Regions from separate parts of the Homo sapiens genome. Here region 2 is linked to region 1. A link means that fine-mapping ties the variant in region 1 to the expression of a gene that starts in the linked region. Tissue or cell type: whole blood. Region 1 holds a variant in brackets; the other region holds the start of a gene. All regions are shown on one strand. Distances are from middle to middle. Region 1 has its middle 6.6 kb from the start of LINC03030. Region 2 holds the start of AQP11 (aquaporin 11).

What was found.
Region 2: AQP11 starts here. The variant in region 1 is fine-mapped to the expression of AQP11 in whole blood (INTERVAL, PIP 0.92).

Annotation. Positions count from the first base shown.
Region 1 is chr11:77,559,468-77,569,606 of GRCh38, reverse strand. It overlaps the pseudogene RNU7-59P. Among named protein-coding and RNA genes, the nearest start is that of LINC03030, 6.6 kb to the left of the region's middle. RefSeq lists enhancers at 9,189-9,483, 8,515-9,714. The variant G/A (reference allele first, on the strand shown) is at 5,653.
Region 2 is chr11:77,585,165-77,595,303 of GRCh38, reverse strand. AQP11 (aquaporin 11) reads right to left here and starts at 5,351. Exons shown (of 3, transcript NM_173039.3): 1 at 4,693-5,351. The coding sequence starts at 5,311. RefSeq lists silencers at 893-1,093, 5,375-6,004.

The sequences.
Region 1 (10,139 bases):
CTCTGATCGCCTAGCTGTGGCTGCATAGCACAGAGAGTCTGTGCACTTGTGGGAGGGAGAGTGCAGTGATTATGGGACTTTGCATTAGAGCTCAGTGCTGCCCTGTCACAGCAGAAAACAACACAAGGCAGAACTCAGCTGGAGGCCAAGGAGGGAGCATTTGCATCAGCCCTAGCCAGAGGCATATTACCCATCCCAGTGGTCAGAACTTGACCTCTGGCAAGCCACCACCATTTGGTAAAGGGCTCTGGGGTCCTAAGTAAACTTGAAAGGCAGTCTAGGCCCTAAGGATTGCAATTGCTGGGCAAGTCCTGGTGCTGTGCTGGGCTTGGAGCCAGGGTACTCGTACTCAGGTACATGTAACATGTACATGGAGCCAGGGAGGCCAAGGCAGTGCTTGCATCATCCCTCTCCCAACCTCAGGCAGTGCAGTTCACAGCTCTGGGAGAGACTCCTTCCCTCTACCTGAGGAGAGAAGGGAGAGTAAAGAGGACTTTGTCTTGCAGCTTGGATACCTGCTCAGCCACAGCAGGATAGGGCACCAGACAGAGTCCTGAGGACCCCATTCCAGGGTCTAGCCATCACATGACATTTCAAGACACACCCTGGGCCAGAAGGGAACCAACTGCCTTAAAGGGAAGGAATAATCAGCGGTGGTAACCAGGCATTATTCCTCCTGGGCCTTGGGTAAAACTCAGAGCTGTGTTGCCTTTAGATGTGACCCAGCACATTCCTAGCTGTGGTGGCTACTTGAAGAAAGAAGACGGAGGAGTAAAGGGCATTTTGTCTTATAGCTTGGGTACCAGCTCAGCCACAGTGGGATAGAGCACCAAGCAGGCTCTTGGTGTCCCCAGTTCCAGGTCTTGGCTCATGGATGGCATTTCTGGACCTGCCCTGGGCCAGAGGGGAGTCCTTTTCCCTGAAGGGTGAGTCCCGGGCCTCACAGCATTCACCGCAAGCTGATTGAAGAGCCCTTGGACGTTGAGTGAACATTGGTGGTAGCCTGGCAGTACTTGCCACGGGCTCAGGGCAGCAGTAGCCATGAAGAGAGACTCCTGTTTGTGGAAAGGGGAGGGAAGAGGGGGAAGGACTTTGTTTTGTGGCTTGGATGCCAGCTCAGCAGCAGTAGATAAGATTTCTAAGGTTCCTGGCTCCAGACTCTGGCTCCCAGTGGCATCTTTGGACACACCCAGGGCCAGGGGGACCTTACCACCCTAAAAGGAAGGACACAAGCCTGCTGTATTTGCCACCTGCTGATTGTAGATCTCTTGGGTCTTGAGTGAACCTAAGTGGTAGTCAAGCAACGGTCACTGTGGACCTTGGGTGAAACCCAGTGCTATGTTTGTTTCAGGTCTGACCCAGGACAGTCCCAGTGGTGGTGACCACAGGGGAACTTATGTCACCCCTCTCCCAGCTCCAGGAAGTTCAGTACAGAGAGAGAGAGACTTCATTTGTGGGGGAAAGTAAAGGATGAGAACAAGAGTCTCTACCTGGTAATCCAGGGAATTCTCCTAAATCTTACCCAAGACCACTAAGGCACTACTTCTGAGTCTGCAAGAGCCACAACATTACTGGACTTGGGGTTTCCCCTAGTGCAGATACGGCTGCAGTGATAAAAAACTTAAATCACAGCATCCAAGTCCCTTCGAATGGCTGGAAATCCTTCCCAAGAAGGACAGGTACAAACAAGCCCAGACTGTGAAGACTATAATAAATACCTAATTCTTCAATGCCCAGACACCGATGAACATCCACAAGCATCAAGACCATCCTGGAAAACATGACCTCACCGAATGATCTAAATAAAGCACCAGCCACCAGTCCCGGCTGTCTCTTAGCAAAACTGATCAAGCAGAAGAAAGAATTAGTGAGTTTCAAGACAGGCTGTTTGAAAATACACAGCCAGAGGAGACAAAAAAGAATTAAGAAGAAGGAAGCATGACTGCAAGATCTAGAAAATAGCCTCAAAGGGGGAAATCTAAGAGTTATTGGCCTTATAGATCTGGGTAGAAAGTTTATATAAAGAGGTAACAGATAGTTTTCCAAACCTAGAAAAGGATATCAATATTTAAGTACAAGAAGGTTGTAGAACACCAAGCAGATTTAGCCCAAATAAAAGTACCTTGAGACACTTAATAACCAAACTCCCAAAGGTCAAGGGTAAAGAAAGGACCCTAAAAGCAGCAAGGGGAAAAGAAACAAATTACATACAATGGAGCTCTAATATGCCCAGGAGCAGACTTTTCAGTGGAAATCTTAAAGGCCAGGAGAGAGTGGTGGGACAAATTTACAGTGCTGAAGGAAAAAAACTTTAATACTAGAATAGTATATCCAGTGAAAATATCCTTCAAACATAAAGGAGAAACAACGAATTCCCCAGACAAACAAAAGCTGAGGGAGTTCATCAACACCAGACCTGTCCTACCAGAAATGCAAACGAGAGTTCTTCAATCTGAAAGAAAAGAATGCTAATGAGCAATAAGAAGTCATCTGAAGATATAAAACTCACTGGTAATAGTAAGTACACAGAAAAGCACAGAATATTATAACACTGTAATTTTGGTATGTAAACTGCTCGTATCTGCAGTAGAAAGACTAAAAGACGAACCTGTCAGTGTTACAGCTTTTTTAGAATTTGTCCAGCAGGCTTTCTTGTTTTCACTGGAAGCCTCCCTCGCAAAAAATGAACCTGTCAAAAATAAGAAGTACAACAACTTTCCAAGATACAGACAATATAATAAGATATAAATAGAAAAAGCAAAAAGGTAAAAAGCAAGCAGATGAAGTTAAAATGTAGAGTTTTTATAAGTTTTCTTATTGCATGTTTGTTCATTTGTTTATGCAACCAGTGTTAAGTTGTCATCAGCTTAAAATATGGGTTGTAAGATATTATCTGCAAGCTGTATGGTAACCTCAAATTGAAAAACATACAACAGATACATGAAAAATAAAAAGCAAGAATTTAAAACATACCACCAGAGAAAATCACCTTCACTACAAGGAAGACAGGAAGAAAGGAAAGAAGGAGGTGAAGACTACAAAACAACCAGAAAACAAATAAAAGGCAGTAATAAGTTCTTATCAATAATAACATTGAATATAAATGGACTAAACTTCAATCAAAAGACACAGAGTGGCTGAATGGATTAAAAAAACAAGACCCAATGATCTACTGCCTGCAAGAAATATACTTCTCCTATGAAGACACATAAACACTGAAAATAAATGGATGGAAAAAGAAAGGGCAGGAGTAGCTATATTTTTTTAAGACAAAATACATTTCAGGACAAAACCTATTTTAAAAAGACAAAGAATATTATTGTAAAATGATAAAGGGGTCAATTTAGCAAGATAATAACAGTTATAAAAATATATGCACTCAACACAGGAGCACCCAGACATATAAAGCACATATTATTAGAGCTAAAGAGAGAGAGAGACCCCAATGCAATAATAGCTGGAGCCTTCTACACCACATTTGCAACATTGGACAGATCATCCAGACAGAAAATCAAAAAAGAAACATCAGACTTCGTTTGCACTATAGACCAAATGGACCTAATAGATATTTACAGAACATTTCATCCAACAGCTACAGAATACGCATTCTTCTCCTCAGCACTTACATCACTTTTGAGGATAGACTATATGTTAGACCACAAAATAAGACTTTAAAAATTGAAAAAAAAAGCCAGACTTGGTGGCTCACGCCTGTATTCCCAGCACTCTGGGAGGCCGAGGCGGGCAGATCACCTGAAGTTGGGAATTCGAGACCAGCCTGACCAACATGGAGAAACCCTGACTCTACTAAAAATACAAATAAAATGAGCTGGGTGTGTAGGCGCATGCCAGTAATCCCAGCTACTTGGAAGGCTGAGTCAGGATAAGCGCTTGAACCCAGGAGACGGAGGTTGTGGTGAGCCGAGATCGCACCATTGCACTCCAGCCTGGACAACAAGAGTGAAACTCCATCTCAAAAAAAAAAAAAAGAAAAAGAAAAAATTGAAAAATAATTGAAAAAAAATAAATTATATCAGGTATCTTCTCTTACTACAATGGAATACAGCCAAAAATCAATAATAAAAGGATTTTTGAAAACTATACAAACATATGGAAATTAAACAATATGCTCCTGAGTGATCATGGGTCAATGAAGAAATTAAAAAAGAATTTTTAAAATGTCTTGCAACAAATGAAAATGGAAACACAACATGCCAAAACCTATGGGATACAACAAAAGCAGTATGAAGAGGAAAGTTTATAACAATAAGCACCTACATTTAAAAAAAAAACATCAAACAAACATCCTAATGATGCATCTTAAAGACCTAGAAGGCCAGCTTGGTGGCTCACACCTGTGGCCCGCACTTTGGGAGGTTGAAGTGGGCAGATTGCTTGAGCCCAGGAGTTCAAGACCAGCCTGGGCAACATGTCAAAACCCCATCTATATAGAAAATACAAAAGAGAGAGAGAGGGAAAGAGAGAGAGAGAGAGAGACAGCGAGCTAGAAAAGCAAGAGTAAATCAAACCCAAAATTAGAAGAAAAGAAATAATAAAGATCAGAGCAGAAATAAATGCATTTGAAATGAAGAAAACAATACAAAAGATCAACAAAATGAAAAGCTGCTTTTTTTTTTTTTTTGAGACTGAGTCTTGCACTGTTGCCCAGGCTGGAGTGTAGTGGTGCGATCTCGGCTTATTGCAACCTCTGCCTCTTGGGTTCAAGCAATTCTCCTACCTCAGCCTCCCGAGTAGCTAAGATTACAGGCACCTGCCACCACGCCTGGCTAATTTTTCTTTTTCTTTTTTTTTGTACTTTTAGTAGACACAGGGTTTCACCATATTGGTCAGGCTGGTTTTGAACTCCTGACCTCATAATCCACCCACCTTGGCCTCCCAAAGTGCTGGGATTACAGGCGTGAGCCACTGCGCCTGGCCGAAAAGTTGCATTTTTGAAATGATAAACAAAAGTGACAAACCTTTAGCCAGACTAAGAAAAAAAGAAGTTCCAAATGAATAAAATCAGAGATGAAAAGGAAGACATTACAACTGATACCACAGAAATTCAAACTTCGTTATAGACTACTATGAACAACTGTATGCCAATAAATTGGAAAAACCTAGAAGAAATGGATAAATTCCTAGACACCTACAACTTACCAAGATCGAACCATGAAGAAATACAAATCCTGACTAGACCAGTAACAAATAATGGGATTAAAGGTGTAATAAAAGTCTCCCAGCAAAGTAATGCTCAGAGCCCAATGGCTTCGCTGCTGAATTCTACCAAACATTTAAAGAAAAACTAATAACAGTCCAACTTAAGTTATTCCAAAAAATAGAGGAGGCAGGAATACTTTTCCAAACTCATTCTATAAGACAAGTATTACCCTGATACCAAAACCACACAAAGACACATCAAAAAAAGAAAACTAAGGGCCAGTATCTCTGGTGAACATTGATGCAAAAATCTTAACAAAATATTGGCAAACTGAATTTAACAACACATTAATAAGATCATTTATCATGACCAAGTGGAATTCATCCCAGGGATACAAAGATGGTTCAACTTAATCAATGTAATACATCATATCAACAGAATGAGGGACAAAAATCATGTGATCATTTCAATTGCTGCCAAAAAAGCATTTG[G/A]TAAAATTCAACATCCTTTCATGATAAAAATCCTCAGCAAACTGGGTGTAGAAGGAACATGCCTCAACACAATAAAAGCTATATATGACAGACCCACAGCTGGTATCACACTGAATGGGGAAAAACTGAAAGCATTTTCTCTAAGTTCTGGAACAAGACAAGGAAGTCCCCTTTCACCACTGCTATTCAACATAGTACTGAGCAATCAGACTAGAGAAAGAAATAAAAAGCATCCAAATTGAAAAGAAAGAAGTCAAATTGTCCTTGTTTGCAAATGATAAGAGCTTATATTTGGAAAAACCTAAAGACTCCACCATAAAACTACTAGAACTGACAAACAAATTCAGTAAAGTTGCAGAACACAAAATCAACATACAAAAATCAGTAGCATTTCTATATTCCAACAGTGAACAATCTGAAAAAGAAATAAAGTAATCTTATTTATAATAGCTACAAATAAAATATCAAGGAATAAACTTAGCCAAATAAGTGAAATATCTCTACAATGAAAACTATGAAACACTGATACAAGAATTGAAGAGGACACCCAAAAAGTGAAAAGATATTCCCTGTTCATGAATTAGAAGAATCAATATTATTAAAATGTCTATATTACTCTAAGCACTCTACAGATTCAGTGCAATCCCTATCAAAATATAAGTGACATTCTTCACAGAAATGTAATCCTAAAATATATATGGAACTGCAAAAGACCCAGAATAGCTAAATCCATCCTGAGCAAAAAGTACAAAACTGGAGGCATCACATTACCTGACTTCAAATTATACTACAGAGCAATAGTAACCAAAACAGTATGGTGCTGGCATAAAACCAGACACATAGACCAGTGAAACAGAATAGAGAACTCATAAACAAATCCATATAACTACAGTGAACATTTTTGACAAAGATGCCAACAACATACCTTGGGGAAAGGACAGTCTCTTCAATTAATGATGGTGGGAAAACTGGATATCCATATGCAAAAGAATGAAACTGGACTCCTATCTCTCACCATATACAAAAATAAAATTGAAGTGGATTAAAGACTTAAATCTAAGAACTGAAACTATGAAACTACTAAAATAGAACATTGGGGAAACTTTCCAGGGGTATTTTGTGGGTCTGTCATATATGTCTTTTATTTGTAGCTATTGGGTAAGGATTTCTTGAGTAATAGCTCATAAACACAGGCTACCAAACAAAAATGGACAAATGGGATCACATCAAGTTAAAAAGCTTCTACACAGCAAAGGAAACAATCAACAGAGTAAAGAGGAAACCCACAGAATGAAAGAAGATATTTGCAAACTATCCATCTGACACGATATGAATAACCAGAATATATAAGGAGCTCAAACAACTCAAAGGGAAAGATATAATAATCTGATTAAAAAATGGATAAAAGATCTGAATAGACTTTTCTCAAAAGAAAACATACAAATGGGAAACAGGTATTTAAAAAGGTGAAATGCAAATGAAAACTACAATGAGATATCATCTCACCCTAGTTAAAATTGATTTTATCCAAAAGATAGTCAATAACAAACACTGGCACAGATGTGGAGAAAGGGGAACCCTCATACACTGTTGATGGGAGTACATATTAGTTTAACCCCTATGGAGAACAGTATAGAATTTCCTCAAAAAACTAAACATGGAGCTACCATATGATCCAAGAATCCCATTGCTAGGTATATACTCAAAGGAAATCAGTATGTTGAAGACATATCTGCACTCCCTTGTTTACTGCAGCACTATTCACAATAGCCAAGATTTGGAAGCAACCTCAATGTCCATCAACAGATGAATGGATAAAGAAAATGTAGTATATATACACAATGGAGTACTATTCACCCATAAAAGAGAATGAGATCCTGTCATTTGCAACAACATGGATGGAACTGGAGGACATTATATTAAGTGAAATAAGCCAGGCACAGAAAGACAAACTTCTCATGTTCTTACTCATTTGTGGGAGCTAAAAGTTAAAACCATTGAACTCACAGAGAGTGTAGAGTGATGGTTACCAGAGACTGAGAAGGCCAGTGGGTGAGAAATGGGGATGGGTAACATATATAAAAATATAGTTAGATACAATGAATAAGATCTAGTGTTTGATAGCACAACAGGGTGACTGCAGTCAGCAATAATTTGTCGTATATTTTAGAATAACTGAGGGAGTACAGTTGGAATGTTTGTAACACAAAGAAAGGATGAATGCTTGAGGTGATGGATACCAATTTATCCTGATGTGGTTACTACACATTGTATGCCTGTATCAAAATATCCCATACACTCCATAAATGTATACACTTACTATGTACCCATAAAAATTAAAAATTAAAAAAATAATTTCTCTAGCTTTATCTTACATGTTTTACCACCAGCTAACATATATAACATTAATAATTAACATCCCAGGAATAATCCAGTACTGAAGTCCCAATGCTCCACCAAGTGAACCTTGCCCTCCCATGAAAGAACACTTTAAGAAGCTACTGACTTACTCACCATTGCTCTAGTGCAGTACTACCACCCTTGGCCCTGGGCAGACAGGGCCCTGTCACCCTCCATCCCGCTGTGGAGTACCCACCTTGAAATTTTAAGTTTCTCTCTTTTGACTGGGACAGGCTGGGGCTAGTAGTGTTCTCCAGGTGGGGTGCTCTAAACTCAGTTTCTCCCCTTCAAGTGCTCTCTAACCTTCTTCCTAGTGCATGGGGTCAAACAGATGTCCTGAGGAGCTGTAGAACGTGTGCCTATGGAATGGTCTCAGAGCCCAGTGGCCAGGCCACATTTCCAAAAGGACAGCCTGTGGGGCAGATCACTCCTGCTGGCTAGCACAATATTATTTTACTGGCTCATGTGAAGTTGGACCATTAGGATGGTGCCGATGCAGATTTCGGTTGACTGTCACAAGCAGACACTGAGCTGCTATACCTTAGCACTTTGTTGATCTTCCCCCTCACATATCTTGGAATTTCTGCTCCTTCTCTACTACTGACCTTTTGGCTTGGGCTGCATGTGTGGGCCTGTCCACTGACTCTTGCCTGTGTACACTGTGACACCTCCTATCCAGAGCACTCTTGTGCAGATGGGCCACTCATCTATTCTGCCTGCTGATGAAAGGGAAGGGTTCCACTGATACTGAGGAAGATTACATTCAAGGAAATGCAATGATAACACCCTAATGAGTTCAAGAGAAGACATAGTTGGAAGGTGAGTCATGTGGTTGTGCCATAAAATCTGAAATGATAGGCTGGGCATGGTGGCTCATGCCTGTAATCCCAGAACTTTGGGAGGCCCAGGCGGGGGGATCACCTGAGGTCAGGAGTTCGAGACAAGCCTGACCAACATGGAGAAACCTTGTCTCTACTAAAAATACAAAATTAGCCAGGCGTGGTGGTGCATGCCTGTAATCCCAGCTACTCGGGAGGTTGAGGCAGGAGAATTGCTTGAACCTGGGAGGCAGAGGTTGCAGTGAGCCGAGATCGCACCATCGCACTCCAGCCTGGGCAACAAGAGTGAAACTCTGTCTCAAAAAAAAAAAAAAATCTGAAATGATAATTTAACATTACCAGAAAAGTAGTTATCATTTCCATTCAGACTCTGGATAAGACGTGCATTTGTGTTAGTCATCAATGAAGCATGATAACAATCTTTATAACAGAGCCACTGGAGCCACGTGCTTATGGTGGATGATTCAGTGTCATGAGTTAAAGGTTTTGAGGATCAGCAGAAGCCAAAAGGTCTATATTGCTTCAATACAAACAGGTTCCAAGCAGTCATGGCATTGTGAGTAATAACAGCATTGCTACCTTCTTCAGGAGTAGGAGCCATGAAACCAGCAAGGAATGGTGCATTTGAAAATAAAGAACATAAAAAGGTGGTTCTCAAACCAGAACAGAAAGACACGGCACCTGGACACTACAAAGAATCTTCATGCGCACTGACTTGACAACAAATACCTGAATACCTCTTCTATACTCATTCTAAATCTTCATCAGTAAATCACCATAGCTCACATGAGCTCATGAGTTTTGCAATACATTTTAAAACATATTGTTAATATTAACATTCCCCCCACCCGTACACACACCCACACACACTGGCCCAGGGCCTTGCACACTCCAGGGAAATAGTTTTCTGTGGAAGGTGGTGGCAGCAAGTTTGCACCCCCCTCCACCCCACCACCCCTTGGGGCATTTGGCATTGTCTGTAGACAGTTTTGATTGTCACAGCAGGTGGGAGCGGGCATTGCTACTGGCATCTAGCAAGCAGAGGCCAGGGATCCTATGAAACATCCTGCAGTGCACAGGACAGCACCCAGGACAAAGAATTGATTTGGTCCCAAATGCTATTAGTGCCAAGATTAAGAAACTCTGTTAGGGCATCCCTGTTCTAGTAAACTTATTCTTAGGCTTATCTGTTCCCCTACAGCAGTGTTTTTCAAAAGGAGCCACAGACCACTGCCTCAGACTCACATG
Region 2 (10,139 bases), 26 kb before region 1:
AATGGCACGACCTCAGCTCACTGCAACCTCTGCCTCCCAGGTTCAAGCGATTCTCCTGTCTCTGCCTCCTGAGTAGCTGGGATTACAGGCATGCGCAAGCATGCCCAGCTAATTTTGTATTTTTAGTAGAGGTGGGGTTTCTCCATGTTGGTCAGGCTGGTCTCAAACTCCTGACCTCAGGTGATCCACCCACTTCGGCCTCCCAAAGTGCTGAGATTACAGGCGTGAGCCACCACACCCGGCCCAGGTGTTTTTCAATATCTAATTATGCATAAAAAATGAATGCAGCTCTCTCTCAAACTGTTCATTGAACTAAATTCTTCCAGAACCCAAAGTAAGGAAGATTTGCTTGAAATCTGATTAACAGTTTATAGCTCTAATATGTTAATAAATCGCACAGCTTTTTTTTTTTTTACACGATTAGGGGAGCCAGTTAATACACGATAAATGGCAATGACATAACTGGGGCTCCATGTGCCATCAAAATTTGGGGTGCTAAATCAATAAATACACAGACACTTGGTCACTGGCTATCCTTAGGAGCCTGTGGCTATGTTGCTGGATGCTTATGTTCTGTAATCCTAAAATACATAAGTTATTTTGATGTACCCTGTATTGGTGACTTCTCAGTGCCCTCAAAATGCAAGTGATTAAAGAAATCTCCCAAGGTGCACCTTTGTCAAATCTGTACTTGTAGTATCCTAGAAGCTTAAAAAAGACATATCATAATAACTTGTAATGATGCCTGACTTAGCCAACTGTCCCAAGACAGTCCTATTTGTAACAACTCTGTTCCAAAGTTATGACTTATAGCCATAGAAAATAAAAGGGAGAGATGGGACTTAGTGCAGCATTTCCCAAAGTATGTTCTCTTCTGCTACACACTCCTAGACAAGAGGATCTCGTAAGTTTGAAAAACTGTGCTCCAAATCCTCCTCTTGGAGTTTCACAATACTTAGAAGCATAGTAAAGGCTCTATGAAGTCTTAAAATTAGAAAACCTGTTTAATCCAGTGTCTGCCAAATTTATTTGGCAACAACATCATTTTGTAACTTAAAAATTGTATAAATTATGGTGAAATATATATATACCATAAAGTATGCCATTTTAGCCATTTTTAAGTGTATAAGTCATTGGTGTTACATTCACCATGCTGTTTCACCAGCAGCACCATTTCCAAAGGTTTTCATAACATAAACAGAAACTTTGTACCCATTAAACAATAAGTCCCCATTCCTCCCTCCTCCCCACAGTCCCTGGTAACTCTATTCTACTTTCTGTCTCTATGAAGTTGCCTAATCTAGATATTTTGTATATGTAGAGCCATACAGTATTTGTCTTTTTGTGTCTGGCTTATTTTGCTTGGCATATTGTTTTTGAGGTTCATTCATGTTGTAGTATACATCATAACTTCATTCCTTTTTATGGCTGAATATATTCAATTGTGTATAGTTTTGTTAACTTTTGAGGAGCACACTGTGGAAATGCTGATAATGAATCCGTATGAGCTTTAGTGCCAGTTGGAACCATAGTTCTAACACAGTCTAGTTATGTAAGCTTAGATAAGTCATTTCACTTTTCTGGGCCTCACTTACTTTACTTAAAATGGGAAGAATATATTCATCGATGGGTTGTTTTTTTTTGTTTTTGTTTTTTTTTGAGACGGAGTCTCGCTCTCTCGCTCTGTCTCCCAGGCTGGAGTGCAATGACTCGATCTCGGCTCACTGCAAGCTCTGCCTCCCGGGTTCATGCCATTCTCCTGCCTCAGCCTCCCCAGTAGCTGGGACTACAGGCACCCGCCACCATGCCTGGCTAATTTTTTTGTATTTTTTAGTAGAGACGGGGTTTCACCGTGTTAGCCAGGATAGTCTCGATCACCTGACCTCGTGATCTGCCCGCCTCGGCCTCCCAAAGTGCTGGGATTACAGGCGTGAGCCACCGCGCCCGGCCGATGGGTTGTTGTAAGAATTAATTAAGATAACTCTCATAAATTTCCTTGCAAAATGCTTGGCCTATAACAGCTGACAACTGAATATTCTTATCTCCCTTATATTGGCAGAAAACAAACAAAGGGAAGATCATACTGCATTATAAATTTCTGTAACTAATAGTAATCAACAATTGTCTATTTTGTTCTACCCATGCAAACAGACTCTAGCACTGTCCAATCCTGTACCCACTAGCTACAGCACAATTTGACAACTGACCACTTGAAATGTGGCTACTCTGAATCTAATTTCAGTTAATTTAAGTGTAAACAGCCACATGCAGCTAGTGGCTACTGAATTGCACAGTGCAGGTCTAGACTCCTAAAGCAGTGCTTCTTTACCTTGGTTTCATAATGGGATCACCTGTGAAGCTTTACAATACACCGCTGCCTAGGCCCCTTGCCAGAGCAATTGGATTTTAATCTGTGGGCCCAGAACAAGGACGTTTAAAGAGCTCCCCAGGTGATTTTAATACAGAGAGAAACACTGCTCTAGTGTTCCCTTTATACTCTCCCTCTCCCCCATCAATTAGTACCCTCATTTCAAGAAAAAAAGGGCAGTGTTTTTGATCTGTTGATATTTTATAGATACTTCTAATAACTTTCCTTATATCTATGACTGGATCTATAACTCCAAGTATTATCTGTGTCTCTTCTCTCAAATTTTTTGTCACTGATAAAATAGGGAATGGCTAATATATACAGTATTATCTATGGAATCATAAATATGTATTAAAAGTAGACAGAAAGAATATCAACTTCAGGTTAATCAAGAGAGGGAAGAGGAACATAGGTATTGAAAAATCCAACTGTAGTTAATGTTCTATTGATGTAAAAATTCTTTTTTAAGTTTTTACTGCTTTTAATTGTAGAAATAAAGAGCTAAACCATAGCATAACTCTTTTTGCAGTGACAATTCTGTTCATATACAGGGGATGTTTCTGCTTTAGCTAAAATCTAAAACTTCAATAAATAAGCAACTACCCACCAATCCCTCAAATATGCCTGTACTTGTCACTCTTTTTCTCTTTTTCTTTTTTTTTTTCTTTTGAGACAGACAGGGTCTCTATAACCCAGGCTGGAGTGCAGTGGCACTATCACAGCTCACCACAATCTCAACCTCCTGGACTTGGGTGATCCTCCCACCTTAGCCTCCCAAGTAGTTGGGACTACAAGTGCGCACCAGCACGCCCGGCTAATTTTTGTATTTTTTGGAGAGATGGGATTTCTCTTATGTTGCCCAGGCTAGTCTCGAACGCCTGGGCTCAAGCGATCCACCTGCCTTGGCCTCCCAAAGTGTTGGGATGACAGGTGTGAGCCACCGTGCCCGGCCCCCTTCACTCTTCTATACCACTTATTTCCATTTATGTCTACTTAAAAAGTGGTACTAGACCTAAAGAAGGGGAAATTGATTGGGAAGGCTTGCTTTCTTTCTTTTTTTTGAGACAGAGTCTCACTGTTGTCGCCTGGGCTGGAGTAAAATGGCGCGATCTCAGCTCACTGCAACCTCCGCCTCCCGGGTTCCAGCAATTCTCCCGCCTCAGATTCCCGAGTAGCTGAGATTACAGGCGCCCACCACCATGCCTGGCTAAATTTTTTTTGTATTTTTAGTAGAGACGGGGTTTCACCATGTTGGCGAGGCTGGTCTCAAACTCCTGACCTCAGGTGATCCACCCACCTCGGTCTCCCAAAGTGCTGGGATTACAGGCGTGAGCCACCGCGCCCGGCTGAAGGCTTTCATTTTTACCCTAGAAGGTCAAGTACGTGTTTAGGAGTCCTTATCTTGAAGTTTGCTTCTAGTCATTGTTTCACTTTTAATGGGCAGAAGATTATTACCACAAATTTCCTTTGTTGTTATTTCTGCCTCCACAGTCTTTTATAATTTAGATGTAGTCCCAATAAAGATATTCTGTTGTAATCATTTAAAATGACACATTTCATCATTAAATACTTGTGTTTTGGATTTCCTCCTCCCACTTAGGACTAGATTGCCCACTGCATCTGAGATCTGTCAAAGTAAACAAATGGTTTAAAAGAAATCAACAGATTTCTCAAGAGTTATATTTTAAAAAGCATCTTTAATTTGAAGCAAGTTATCATTTAAACATTTTTCTTAATAGGTCACTTAAAAGTTCATGTATAACTCAAAATGAATTATTAAGGAAATAAGAAATTTCATAACTCAAAATGAATTATTAAGGAAATAAGAAATGACTTTAAATCATTTATAGGACTAAAATGGAACTACAAAATTTCTACCCTCCGCTCTTATACTAACCAATCATGTGCCTTGTGCTTTAAATCGAAAGGAACTTTGTAAAGCCAGGATCATTTTTCAGTAAGAGTATCCGAAACGATCTATACCACCTTGGCATGAAGAAAGAGGCAGTTAATAAGTTATCTTTCCTTTCTACCATTAAAACAATCCCTTTGTAGGATATCTGAACCCTTGGCAATATCTCACAGTATCTCAGTTTCAGCACAGAGGTGGCTCCTTTCTCTGGGTGTTCAAAGCAGCACTGCATGAAGGCTCTACGTGTCGGCCCTACTGGTTAAGAACGGGCTGCAAAATGGTTAGAATAACGGGGATACCAGCATTTACATCATAGCGGGATAGACGGTTTCAAATGTATTTTAGTAAAGAACTTACAGCCTCATGTCATAGAGGCTCTGGAAGTGCCAAGTATTTGGTGAGAATGACAAACCTGCATAGACCAAAAAGGTGATGAGTGCAGCCAGCAGGTGGATACGAAGCTTGGTTCGGACTTCCTGGAAGTGCAGCAGAGCGCTGTGGAAGAGAAAGGAGCAGACGGCCTCTGTGATGACCGCTTTGAGCAAGTCGACTCGGATGGGATTCTTGCAAGCGAAGCTCCTCTCGCTGACGTGATACTGGGTCAGACCCAAGCTCCACAAGGCGCTTGTGCAGTACCTGCTGCACAGGGCACTAACCAGCTGAGCCAATAGCCTCACCGCACCCGTCTCGGGGGACATGCCCCCCAGCATCATCTGCATCATCACGCCGCACGGGTTGCTGGACGTGCCCACCAGAGTCAGGCCATGCACAAGCGAGAAGAAGTAGACGAGCGTCAGCGTCCAGGTGGGGTGCGCGGGGTGCTGTTCGCTCAGCAGTTGCAGCTCGTGGGTGCAGCAGCAGAGCTGGAAGGTGGCTAGAAACTCCAGGACGAAGGCGTGGGCCACCGGCCTGTGCAGCTGCTGCCGGGCGACTACGCGGGCCAGCCCCATGAGCAGCACCACCGACAGCATCAGTCCCAGCGAGGTGCAGGTGTCCTGCAGCTCGGACCGGAGCCCCAGCAGCGGCGACATGGCTCCGTCGCCGCCTGAGCGGGTTGCGGGCTCCGGCTCTGGGTAGGAGGCGGTCTCCAGGCCCGAGTCCGAAGTCCGCAGCCCCTCCCCTCCTCACGCCCCTCGGGGCGGGACGAGCGGGAGGCTCCCGAGCGGCACACTTAAGAAGTCCTCCCCGCCTCCCCGGCTTGGCGCTGGGGTGTTGGAACCAGAGCCGAGGAGGCGGGGAGGCGGGGAGGCGGGGAGGCGCGGGGAGGCGCGGGGAGGCGAAGGGAGGTAGCCTAGGGCGCCGGCCGCAGGGCCAACGGTCAGCCGAGCCCACCGCGCACTCACCCTCCGCAGTCTCCCTCAGGGCCTTGTAGGCGGGCGCGGCGGCGGAGGGCCGGCGCGGCGCGGTCGACGCAGCGCTCTTGGTGCCCACTGCGCACGCGTGCTGCGGCCCTTGCGCCCCTGCGGGCGGTGACACCCGGACCACGGGGCGGAGAGGAGCGGCACGGCGCGGCGGAGCTCTGATGGTTGCTTTGCAGCGAGGACCTTAGAGTTTTTCTTTCCCCGCTCCACACTGTAAAACCGTGGAGCTGGAAAGACCGCTGAAGGCCATCTCACATAGCCACCTCGTTTTTATCAATGGGCGACTGAAATTGAGAGGGGAGACGCGGCGCAGGGGGCGGGTGAGTTAGTGGGCGTAGACCGGTGCGCAGGGCCTCCTGGAGCCTTGCTTTTCTTCACCTGCCAAAAAACATTTCTAAAAATGGTGGTAATATATGCCAGATAAAATTCGCCACTTTAATCAATTTAAGTGTATATTTCAGTGGCATCGATTACCCTCACAGTGTTGTTCAACAGTCACCTCTTTTTTCCAGAACTTGAGCGGTGATTCTTCAAAGTGTAGCCTAGTTTTAGCATGTGACTGTCTATAACCTTTGGCATGAACTCTTTACGTATAATATGAAACAGTTGTGTCTTACTGTTACATGCACTCTTCGTGAAGAGGAAACAACAGGTAACTGGAGAGGTCTGTTTCCAAGAACTGGGGGTCCTGGCGCACCTCTTCCATCTGCTTTGAAAGCAGGAATACGGCTGCGTGAGGTGGAGCGCGTCCGGAGTCCCAGCACGGAGAGGCTTAGGTGGGAAGACCGCTTGACCCCAGGAGTTCCAGGCTGCAGTGAGCTGAGATCGCGCCACTGCACCCCTGCCTGGGCCACAGAGCGAGACGCTGTTTTTAGAAACAAAAACAACAACAAAAACCGGGCGCGGCTGGGCGCGGTGGCTCACGCCTATAATCCCAGCACTTTGGGAGGCCGAGGCGGGCGGATCACCGGAGGTCGGGAGTTCGAGACTAGCCTGACCAACATGAGAAACCCCCGTCTCTACTAAAAATACAAAATTAGCCGGGCATGGTGGCGCATGCCTGTCATCCCAGCTACTCGGGAGGATGATGCAGGAGAATCGCTTGAACCCGGGAGGCAGAGGTTGTGGTGAGCCTAGATCGCGCCATTGTACTCCAGCCTGGGCAACAAGAGCGAAACTCCGTCTCAAAAACAACAACAACAACAACAACAACAACAACAAACCAGTCAAACAAACAAAAAACAAAACATGAAAGCCACTTAGTACAGTTCCCAATACGTAGAAAATATTCACTAAGTGGTAGCTTACAGTGGAAACAGCAGGTTTCAGCAGCCAGAGTGCACGGCTCTTGCCACCGCATTCCAGTCCCAACAGCTTGTCCCCTGGGGTGGCCCATTGTAGGTGCAGCACTTTGGGAGTCCGAGGCAGGCGGATAACGAGGTCAGGAGTTCAAGACCAGCCTGGCCAACATAGTGAAACCCCGTCTCTACTAGAAATACAAAAATTAGCTGGGCATGGTGGTGCGCACATGTAGTCCCAGCTACTCGGGAGGCTGAGGCAAGAGAATCCCTTGAACCCGGGAGGTGGAGGTTGCAGTGAGCCAAGACAGTGCCACTGCACTCCAGTTTGAGCAACAGAGTGAGACTTCGTCTAAAAAAAAAAAAAATTCTTTCACAAGACACAAACTAGTAGAAAATCAAGACCTTTTCTCTTTCCTGTGTTGATTGCCTGGCCAGAAAGAATTTAAATTAGAATTATTTATTATTATTATTTTTTTAAGACAGAGTCTCGCTCTGTCTCCCAGACTGGAGTGTAATGGCGTGATCTCAGCTCACTGCAACTTCTGCTCCCGGGTTCACGCCATTCTCCTGCCTCAGCCTCCCGAGTAGCTGGGACTACAGGCGCCTGCCACCACACCTGGCTTTTTTTTTTTTTTTTTTTTTTTTTTTTTTTTTTTTTTTGTATTTTTTAGCAGAGATGGCGTTTCACTGTGTTAGCCAGGATGATCTTGATCTCCTGACCTTGTGATCTGCCCGCCTCGGCCTCCCAAAGTGCTGGGATTACAGGCGTGAGCCACCGCGCCCGGCAATTAGAATTACTTTTAAGTCACTGCTGTTTAAAGAAGTTGCCTTTAAATCAATCCTATGAATGTAACCCTTTCAGTGCTCCCCTAGACTTGAAGTCACTTGAGGATTAATGTGAATGTATTTTATTTACTGCTCTGCTGATAATTCACTTTTACCCGGAAGAGTCATGTAGAAAACCAGTGTTTTGGACTTTGGTAAGAAATTTTAGTATCGTGGTAATACATATTGTCATTAAAAGGACTTTGGACATTTTTTAAATTAAAGAACAAGGGCAAAATTAACATAATTAATTACTACTGATTGGATATTTTGCATCAAATCAACCTTCCTATTTTCAGAAACAAGAAATCACCAATTAAAGTCTCTTGAGAGTGACATCATGGACGAAGACCTCTGTTAGCTTTGGTAAAACAGCAGTAAAAACAGTCCTTGCTCTTGAATAGCATAGAAGAGGGAACAGAAGAGAAAACAAAATTAAAATATAGTGTAAAAGTACAATGGTAAAAGAAGAAAGGCCTGGGCACAGGGAGGGGCCCCCACTCAGACTTAAGGAAAGGCTCCTTGGAGGAAGTGTCATCCTAGCTGAAACCTGAAGAATAAATAGGAGTTAAGGGGTAAAGAGAAGAGGGAGAAAGAAGAGAGGCAGAGGCACTGCATTTTGCAAACAGAGAAAGCCTAGAGGAGTCCCCGTGCTCTAGGCTGGAGTATGAAGGGGGAAGTAGCAAGAGATCAAGGTTAAAAGAAATAATGCCTGAAAAAGATTTAGTACATGGCCCAGCACATAGTAGTGCTTAATAAGGTTTAATATATAAAAATGGAGGTAAAATAGACGATAGTTCAATAATCATGGATTTTGCCCTGAAGCTTCAGACAAGACAAAGCGAAATGAAGAAAAAAAAAAACCCCTGCCAAAATTCAGAATTGCATTTCGTTAACATCTGCGAGGAGATAAAGCATTTAAGAGCTTCTGCACCAGGCGCGGTGGCTCACGCCTGTAATCCCAGCACTTTGGGAGGCCGAGGTGGGTGGATCACCTGAGGTCAGGAGTTTGAGACCAGCCTGGCCAACATGGTGAAACCCTGTCTCTACTAAAAATACAAAAATTAGCCAGGCGTGTTGGCACATGCCTGTAGTCCCAGCTACTCAGGAGGCTGAGGCAAGAGAATAGCTTGAACCCGGGAGGTGGAGGTTGCAGCGAGCCAAGATTATACCACTAAACTCCAGCCTGGGCAACATGGTGAGACTCCATCTCAAAAAAAAAAAAAAAGAGCTTCTGAAGCCATGTCCTTTGGCTTGACGTTTACGTGGGAAGAAACATGGGAAGAATTTAAGTAATTGCATTTTAAAAGTATTTTATTTTGAAATAATCTCAGGCTTTCAGAAAAGTTGCAAGTATAGTACAAAATTTTTTTTTCCTGAACCATTTGAAAATTAATTGTTAATATTATGCCCAATTACTCAGAACATTTTAGGGTGTATTTTCTTAAACATCTGTGTCCTACATAGCCATAATAAGACTATCAAAATCAGGAAATTAACATTGTTACTACCATCTACTCCTCAGATCCCATTCAAGTTTTGCCAGTTGTCGCAACATTGTACTTCTTAGCAAAAGGATCCAATTCAGAATTGCACATTGCATTTAGTGTCATGTCTCATGAGTTTCCTTCAATCTAGAAAAGTTCCTCAGCTCTTCCTTGACTTTCATCACCTGGACAATTTTGAGGTTACAGATCAGTTATTTTGTAAAATCTCCTTGAATTTGGGTTTGCCTAATGTTTCCTAGATACTAGTTTCAGGTTAAGTGTCTTTTTTTTTTTCTTTTTTTGAGACAGAGTCTCACTGTGTTGCCCAGGCTGGAGTACAGGGGCGTGATCGCGGCTCAATGCAGCCTTACAGGGTATGCATCTTTAGCAGGAATATCACAGAAGTGATGCCATATTTTTCTCATTGTGTTTTATCAGATGTGTACTCCAAAAATCTGAGACATGTCTCAGTTAATTTAGAAAGTTTATTTCGCCAAGGTTGAGGATGCGTGCCTATGACACAGCCTCAGAAGGTCCTGATGACATTTACCTGAGGTGGTCACAGCACAATTTGGTTTTATACATTTTAGGAAGTCATGAGACATCAATCAATATATGTAAGAAGAACGTTGGTTCAGTCTGGAAAGGCATGACATCTTGAAGCAGGAAGGGGGCTTCCAGGTCATAGGTACGTAAGAAAAAAATGGTTGCATTGTTTTAAGTTTCTGATTAGCCTCCTCAAAAGAGGCAGTCAGATATGTTTTTATCTCAGTGAGCAGAGGGGTGACTTTGAATAGAATGGGAGGCAGATTTGCCCTAAGCAGTTTCCAGCTTGACTTTTCCCTTTAGCGTATTGATTTTTGGGGGCATAAGATATTTTCCTTT